2 linked regions of the Homo sapiens genome follow. The gene in region 1 interacts genetically with each later gene. Each region holds a gene or a part of one and is shown in the gene's direction. Other genes may lie near its edges.

Evidence for each region.
Region 2: changes in CMAS (region 1) and MTOR together harm fitness more than expected from each alone (negative genetic interaction), as found in Homo sapiens cells (one large-scale study listed by BioGRID).

What each region holds. Positions count from the first base shown.
Region 1 is NC_000012.12:22,055,448-22,060,775, forward strand, and holds part of CMAS (N-acylneuraminate cytidylyltransferase), read left to right. Parts: intron 1-7; coding exon 8-163; intron 164-3,119; coding exon 3,120-3,253; intron 3,254-5,328. UniProt on the Homo sapiens protein: Catalyzes the activation of N-acetylneuraminic acid (NeuNAc) to cytidine 5'-monophosphate N-acetylneuraminic acid (CMP-NeuNAc), a substrate required for the addition of sialic acid.
Region 2 is NC_000001.11:11,126,480-11,130,051, reverse strand, and holds part of MTOR (serine/threonine-protein kinase mTOR), read left to right. Parts: intron 1-213; coding exon 214-314; intron 315-1,100; coding exon 1,101-1,197; intron 1,198-1,499; coding exon 1,500-1,598; intron 1,599-1,925; coding exon 1,926-2,048; intron 2,049-2,245; coding exon 2,246-2,428; intron 2,429-2,907; coding exon 2,908-3,042; intron 3,043-3,255; coding exon 3,256-3,430; intron 3,431-3,572. UniProt on the Homo sapiens protein: Serine/threonine protein kinase which is a central regulator of cellular metabolism, growth and survival in response to hormones, growth factors, nutrients, energy and stress signals.

The sequences.
Region 1 (5,328 bases):
TTTTAAGAGGTTGACATTGTAGGAAATATTCAAGCTACTTCTCCATGTTTACATCCTACTGATCTTCAAAAAGTTGCAGAAATGATTCGAGAAGAAGGATATGATTCTGTTTTCTCTGTTGTGAGACGCCATCAGTTTCGATGGAGTGAAATTCAGAAAGGAGGTAATCTCTTTTCAGTCTTTATTTTAGCTGATTTTATTGAGAATCAATTTTTTTGTATATAAATATCCTTTAGGCATGAGGAGAGTAAAAGGGGAGCTGTAAAAGAGAGTATTTGACTCATTACTTTAGTAGGTAATGACATTTACAATCAGCTGTAAATCTGTTATCGAGCCAACACAGCTAGACCAAATTAATTCTTTGCTTTACTCTTTACAAAGGGACATTCTAATCCTCTTATTTCTGTTTGCCTTTTGAGGCAGATATGCTGTTTTTCTAGATCAAATACTTTTATGTTTGTTCTAGACATGTTTGATGAACTCCATACAAGTCATATAGAGATAGAAAGCATCCACCAAAGTGTTCTGAAGGATTTCAAGAATGACATTTTGAAGTTCTTCCCCAAATTCCTAACTCCATATATAAGAAGGGTTCCCTAGGGTTTACTAGGCATTTTGCCTGCCATGTCCAGTGTGCTATAAATCTTATCCAGAGAATTATTATAAACACTGTGTTTTTCCATTCAGTAATGTACATTTTAGTTGTTTCGTAGGGATTCCATTTTCTGTTGAAATTTTCCATTTTTTTATCCATTTTAAAAAAAGGTCATTTCCTCTAATTTAACATATTTTTGATAGCTATTTGAAAGTCCTTGATTGCAAATTTCAACATCTAGTCACTTACAGTTCTGTAATCTGCTTCTTTCTTGATTGTGAGTCACCTATTTCTGCCTCTTCATTTGGCTCATGTTTAATTGTATATCTGGCATAGACACTTGAGTACATATTTTCCTCCAGAGAGGGTACACCTTTTCTTCTATCAGGAAGATAGGATAAGGGGCTGATCACTTTGATTCAATTAGGAGTTGGGCTGGGTTGAAACTTTAATTTCATCTCACCTCTTAGTATAGGTGTCTTATTAGGAGATACATCTTGTATGTGTTACTGACACTCACACCCATACCCTACTCTTGCTAACAAGACTAAGGGATCTGATGACCACAATACTATTATGATGTCTCCCTGCTTTCCAGCCCATTCCCAGCTTCCCACCCAGTACACTCAGCCAAAGTCTTGTAAGGGGGAAGCATTAGGTGGGGAAAAACGAGCTATATGTTTGTGGTTCCTACAGATGACAATCTGTAACTCAAGTCCACAAGGTCATTGAAAGCCCTTCTAGTTTTTGCCTACCTCAGCAGAGTCCCTCTGATTATGCAAAGCTTGATCTTTCTTGTACCTTCTCCTCATACTCAGCAGATATGACCAGGGAGAAAGCAGCCACCGATACTAGGAAAGATTTGTCCCTCTCTTTTCTTCAAAGTACCACTTGAATTATCTAGTTGGTTTATTACCTGTCTCTACCCCTAGATTGTATACTTTTTGAGAATAGAGAGAGTTCTGGTCACTACTCTGTAGCCAGTGCCCATAAAGCTATGTTATCTCTAGCTATTTAATTTGTATTTGCTAAGGTTTTTTCCTGGGTTATTTCAAACACTGGGGTGGAATTGAACAGGGGATGATTTCGTTAAACAAGTAAGTAGAGGTTATTCCTAGAAGCCTGTATAAACACAGAAATGGCAGCAAAAAGTGAAGAAAGATTCTGGAGAGTAACCAGCTATTACACACACACACATACACACACACACACACACACACACACACACACACAGATTTGAGGAAAACTCAGTGGAAAGGCAAAGGAATCTCTACATGACAGTACCAAAGTCTTCATTGATTACATTATGTTCTATTCATTAATGTTGACATTACTGAGCCTTTATTATCAGGTATACTCATAAACATAATTTATTATTATGTTTAGTATATTTTTAACTAATGGTAAGAATGTATAATATGTTACATAAACATTTTCATCAATATAAAATCTTCAATAATTTAATGGAGAAATCTTTACTTTTCAGCAATAATTGTATAAAAACAAGTTCTCAACCACATTAGATAAATAAAACTTATTTCTGTATATGCAAACAATGAGAACTAGATTAAAGGGCCCAAATATTAATATAGGTATTTTATGACAAATTCAGTTCTTTTAAAGCTACTTTAAGGTTGTCTTGATGTCCTCCCAAAGCATAATATTTGTATGAATACCTTAATTGTTCCACATTTCATTATAAAATACTTTAGTTTTCTAGTAGCTATTGGAAAGCAAAGATAAATCATCAGAATTATTACAGATTTTATTCCTTTAAAAAAGTTCTTTTTTTTTTTTTTGAGACAGAGTCTCACTCTGTTGCCCAGGCTGGATGGAGTACAGTGGCGCAATCTCGGCTCACTGCAATCTCCCCCCCCCGGGTTCAAGCGATTCTCCTGCCTCAGCCTCCCAAGTAGCTGGGATTACAGGTACCCACCACCATGCCCGGCTAAATTTGTGTTTTTAGTGGAGATGGCGTTTCACTATGTTGGCTGGGCTGCTCTCGAACTCCTGACCTCAAGTGATCCGCCCGCCTTGGCCTCCACAGTGCTGGGATTACAGGCGTGAATCACCACATTCAGCCTAAAAAAAGTTCTTTATCAGGCCGGGTGCAGTGCCTCATGCCTGTAATTCCAGCACTTTGGGAGGCCGAGGTGGGCGGATCACGAGGTCAGGAGTTCGAGACCAGCCCGGACAACATGGTGAAACCCCATCTCCACTAAAAATACAAAAATTAGCCAGGTGTGGTGGTGCATGCCTGTAGTCCCAGCTACTTGGGAGGCTGAGGCAGGAGAATCGCTTGAACCCAGGAGGCGGAGGTTGCAGTGAGCCAAGATCGCACCATTGCACTCCAGCCTGGGTGACAGAGCGAGACTCTGTCTCAAAAAAAAAAAAAGAAAAGTTCTTTATCTAGATAAAGAAATGCTCTGCATTCTGAGTTCATTTTTATTAACTTTTTTAGTTACTAAATTAACACTTTCTATATTCAGGGCAACGTGGACTTACTCTAACTTTTTGCTTTTAGTTCGTGAAGTGACCGAACCTCTGAATTTAAATCCAGCTAAACGGCCTCGTCGACAAGACTGGGATGGAGAATTATATGAAAATGGCTCATTTTATTTTGCTAAAAGACATTTGATAGAGATGGGTTACTTGCAGGTTTGTACCTTCATTTTGCATAACCCTTTTAAGCGCTTTTGTAGGCATACTTTGAGTTCTAGGGAAGAAGTATGGTACAATTTCTTTATGATAAAGAAAAGTATCAACCTATAGAGGAAAGGTAATAGCCAACAACATTTGCTATCTGAGGCATTTATCCTGCAGGTTTACCCCAAAGTGATCTTTGGAATCCATTCAGTAAATATGCAAGGAATTCTGCTACAACGATAAAAAAATGAATCAAGTACTGGGTGTCTACACATGTCCTGGTACTCATATTATTCCACTCAAAACTACGTAATCCATGTTTGTGTTATAGTTATATTGTGGCTGTAGGGTTGAATAACTTCTATTGCTTTAAAAAGACAAATAATTTCATAGAGGTGAAAAGAGTTACAACCTGGGTGTCAGGAAACCCGGAATCTTTTTATATATATATATATATATATTTTTTTTTTTTTTTATTATACTTTAAGTCAACTGCCTCTTACTATGTAAGCTTGAATATGTATCATTTTATCTGTCCTGACTCTCATTTTCAAATAACAGATTTAATGTCTCTCTCATTTTAGAGCCTGCAACATGGTTGCATCATATATTTCTTAACTTGTTAATTTTAGTTATCATTATTATTTATTATTTACTGTGTACTTCGGAGTAGGTGAAACACTTTGCATATGTTATCTTATGTAATCTGCATAGCGAATGAATGAAGTGGACATTTCTACCCAGTTTTACAGAGGAGGAAAACTGCCTCACTGAAATATGAAGTAATTGACTCAAGGCAAAAACAGCTAATAAATGGTACTGTCAGGATTTGGATTCAGGTTCTTATGTTACTCAAGAAATAGCGGTTTTAAAGAGAGAGAGAGAAACCTCTCCATTGTGTAATAAAAATTCTAATGGGACTATTATTCTGAGCAAAAGAGAGAAAAACATTTTTACAAATCTTCTGGTCAATGTGTAGGCAAACTATAGACTAGCTGTTTAGTTAAATTTAAGTGTTCAGAAAAATTGGATTTGACACACATAGATACTACCATTTTTAAGCTTTTTTCTAAGGAGGACCATGATTAACCCATTCCTAAAGTGTGGAGAAAAATGTTTCTCATTAAAACAAGGTTTATGAAGAGACTGACAATTCTGAAAAAAAAAATGAAATTGAAATTGTCCAGTAATTGATCTTGTCATTCAAATAATTACTATCAGAAGAAAGACCCTTTCTCTTGCTGACCCTTGCCTAGAATCAAGAGACTGCCCTTGCCTTTGCCTGCATGTGACTTGGATGACTATTAGTCATTTTCATCAGTAGCTCAGAGATCTAAGAAAACTCTGTACAACAGATGCTACAGTTATTTTTCCTCCCCTGTGTTGCCTGTTAGTTGCAAATTAGAACAGAAGTTCCAAAAACCTTAATACTGCTTTTGGATGATGACAGGAGAGACTTCTTGAAAAAAAGGAGGATATGATTAAGGGATTTCCACAAAATCCCTTGTGGTCAGAAACCTGGAGGATGTAATATTTCTGCTTTTTTCAATATTAAAATAGAAATTTTCTTAAATAGGGAACTTGAACTGTTTAGATAGAATTTGAAAAATGTTAAGGTTATTTCTTTTGTGTGAGCTTTCTCCTTAAAAAAAAAAAAAAAAAAAAAAAAAAAGCTGGGCGTGGTGGCTGAAGCATGTCATCCCAGCACTTTGAGAGGCCAGCTTGAGGCCTCAAGAGGATAGCTTGAGGCCAGGTTTCCAAGACCAGCCTTGGCAACATAGCAAGATCTTATATCTACAAAAAACTTTTTAAAAATTTAGCCGGACATGGTGCTGTATACCTGTAGTACCAGATCCTTAGGAGGCTGAGGTGGGAGGATTGCTTGAGCCTAAGATTTCAAGGTTATAATGAGCTATGATTGCACCATTGCACTCCAGCCTGGGAGGCAGAGTGAAACCCTGACTCGAAAAAATAAAAAAGTAAAAATAAATTTAAAAATCATTTTTATGTGACTGATTTTTACTGGGTTATTCATTTTTCTCAGTACTGTAGAAATGAATTCATTGTTCTGTATTATAATAAAGTTT
Region 2 (3,572 bases), on another chromosome or scaffold:
ACTGTCAGCCCAAGATAATAACAGTTATGATACAGTTGCCATTTATTGAGTCTTTGCTATGTGCCAGGTAATGATTAAAGATTTTTCATGCATTAACCGATTTAATTGTTATAACCACCCTTTGAAGTAGGTACAGTTAGTATGCTCTTATGCCCATTTTACAGATGAGAAAGCAGAGGCAAGAGTGTCGCTAACACGTGTGTGTTCCAACAGGATCTGTCCAAAACCCTCCTGATGTACACGGTGCCTGCCGTCCAGGGCTTCTTCCGTTCCATCTCCTTGTCACGAGGCAACAACCTCCAGGATACACTCAGGTATCAGAGAAGGGAAGGATGCAACTCTGGTAGGCCATGTTAATGGCAAGACCTAGAAGTCACACGTAAAAGTCCTCTTTCCCTTCCTGACCCTGATCAGGACACCCAAGATCGATGTATGTGCCTTTTTTCTGCACTGCATTTAAGGAGTAACAGCTGACTGGGCCCCACCTGTGTGGGTGAAACCTACAGAGAGTGAGGAGGAGAAGTGGAGTGAGAACTCTCCATGTGTGGTTTATTATGGAGGGATTATTAACCCATCTGTTAATCACAATATTTCTTTTTTTCTGACCACCCTGTTGCCTATTGAAGTCACAGTATTTCTAAAATCCCTCAGCAACTTGGAGAGGTCTAAACAAATGACTCAAATCAGTTAACCCAGAGGGTAAAGGTGACAAGGTCCACATCCTCCTTCATTTGAGGATCTCCAGCCAGCTAAGAGCCAGGTGTCCCTGTTGCCTCTGCCGTACAGCGACTCTTACATGTGCAGACTTGTGGCTTTCTAAAGGTTATCCTGGCTCGTCTGTTTGATGTTTGCATACATGCCATGGTGACCCCTCGGTGACCTGGGATGAAATGCTCATTTGCTCAGGGTGACTCTTACGGTGTTCAGTCAAGAGCACTGCCACCCATCACAGACACCTGCTCCCATGGGAGGCCAAACACATTTGAGAGTTACTGGTTGGAGTCCCTGCCAGCTCTCTTCTCAGGAGCCTTAGAGATGAAAAACAGGCAGGCAAAAACTGGGAAACTAAATTTTCTGTGACTTTCTCATTTCTTTTTCAGAGTTCTCACCTTATGGTTTGATTATGGTCACTGGCCAGATGTCAATGAGGCCTTAGTGGAGGGGGTGAAAGCCATCCAGATTGATACCTGGCTACAGGTGAGGATACTTGGTTACAGGTGAAGGTGGCTCCAAGTCTCTCTTCTGTGTGTCTCCTCTTACAAGCATGCTGTGTTCAGTGTCACAAGGCAGTGTGTGTTAATACAGTGCTAAGGAAGTAGGGCTCGGTCCCAGTGTCAAGTGTCCATATTTTCTTTATTTTCTTTTAGAAACTAAAGGGAAGGGAATGAACCATTTCAGAGCATCAACCGAAACAAGTTAAAAGAATTGATCTTTGCCTAGAAGAATAACTAGTTGTTTCAAGTCTCATATGCTACATACTGTGTCTTTTTGAATACCAGGTTATACCTCAGCTCATTGCAAGAATTGATACGCCCAGACCCTTGGTGGGACGTCTCATTCACCAGCTTCTCACAGACATTGGTCGGTACCACCCCCAGGTATGTGGAGACTCTGGGCAGTTTCTCATCTAACCACTGGTTTGGTGGTCAGCCTTTCCAAAAGCTGCCCTGGCGACACAAGCGCAGGAACTGGGAGCCATGTGTTCCATCCTGGCCCAGGAGGGTCTGTCCAGCCAGCCGTCCCAGAGGGCCCGGGAGCCTTGCTAAAAAGAAAGCGTTCCCTCGAAGACTGAGCCCCTTCCTGGTAGTCTCAAGCAGATGTTAATGTCACACTCACCACTTGTTTTGTTATTCTCCTTAAAATTCATACCAGCTCTTCCCCAACCCACATTTCCTTTATAGATGTTTCTTCTGTTTTTCCCTCAGGCCCTCATCTACCCACTGACAGTGGCTTCTAAGTCTACCACGACAGCCCGGCACAATGCAGCCAACAAGATTCTGAAGAACATGTGTGAGCACAGCAACACCCTGGTCCAGCAGGCCATGATGGTGGGTCGGAGCCACTGTGGGGCTTCATAGACCCTGGTCCCTTAGCTGGTGGGCGCAAGTGGGATTGTTTTTCTTCCTCGCATTGGTGCTGTGCACTTCCTCTGACTGCTGGAAATAGTACCTCCTGTGTCTCCAAAACAGACCTTTCTGAGGTTAGCTGATTCTTGATGCTTCTCTCCTTCTTCTCTTGGCTTCAGGTGAGCGAGGAGCTGATCCGAGTGGCCATCCTCTGGCATGAGATGTGGCATGAAGGCCTGGAAGAGGCATCTCGTTTGTACTTTGGGGAAAGGAACGTGAAAGGCATGTTTGAGGTGCTGGAGCCCTTGCATGCTATGATGGAACGGGGCCCCCAGACTCTGAAGGAAACATCCTTTAATCAGGTATGGGGTAAAAAACACGAAAGGACATAACCCTGTAGAAATATTCTGCCACTAAAAAAAAATGAAATGAGAAAAGTTTTTATAGAATGAAAGGACGTGACCCAAGGCCTTTGTCAGATTTCTTTTCCTCTGGCCTTTCCACTGACTTTAATAAAACGAGCTCTGATGGAGGTCACAGAGCATAAAACATCAGAAATTAGTTACAGGGACCCTTCTGAATTTTAACTGGAAAAGCCCAAGATTTCTCAAGAGGTCATCTCGTCTCTCCTCTCACCCTTCCTTCCCTATAAGCCATGCTGCTGGTTTGGAAGCTCCAGGGTTGGAGGCCTGCACCTATGCTCTTGCTTTCTCCAGCCCCCTGCCAGTGTTTTCAGGCCACAGCGGGCTCCTGAGGAATATCTGCAGTCAGCCTGGGGATTTTGCCTCCTGGGTTGGTTGAGACTTTGATAACTTGAAAACGTGCCTGCTTTCTCTCTCAGGCCTATGGTCGAGATTTAATGGAGGCCCAAGAGTGGTGCAGGAAGTACATGAAATCAGGGAATGTCAAGGACCTCACCCAAGCCTGGGACCTCTATTATCATGTGTTCCGACGAATCTCAAAGCAGCTGCCTCAGGTAGGATCTTCAGGCTCCTGGCAGGGTTAACTGTCATTATAGTCCTTTCTGTTTTACTGTCTATGAATGTTCTAACACTCATTCCAAAGCATCTGGTTTTACTTCTGCTTTGGGACAAGTAATTGTTATTAGCAATCCACTGAAAAATACTTAAATTGCGTTTAAATTCTTCCCTGGAGGCAGAACACTAAATCCTTTGGTAATTATTTACAGCTCACATCCTTAGAGCTGCAATATGTTTCCCCAAAACTTCTGATGTGCCGGGACCTTGAATTGGCTGTGCCAGGAACATATGACCCCAACCAGCCAATCATTCGCATTCAGTCCATAGCACCGTCTTTGCAAGTCATCACATCCAAGCAGAGGCCCCGGAAATTGACACTTATGGGTAAGGACCATTGTGCACTTCTGTCACCCACTTCTCCCTCCTACACTGGCTGAGACCCCTTCCCTCTTCTGAAATTACTGCTTGCCATTCCCACTACTCACCTATCATAGCTACATCTCTCCCATGCTCATTGAGAGGAAAA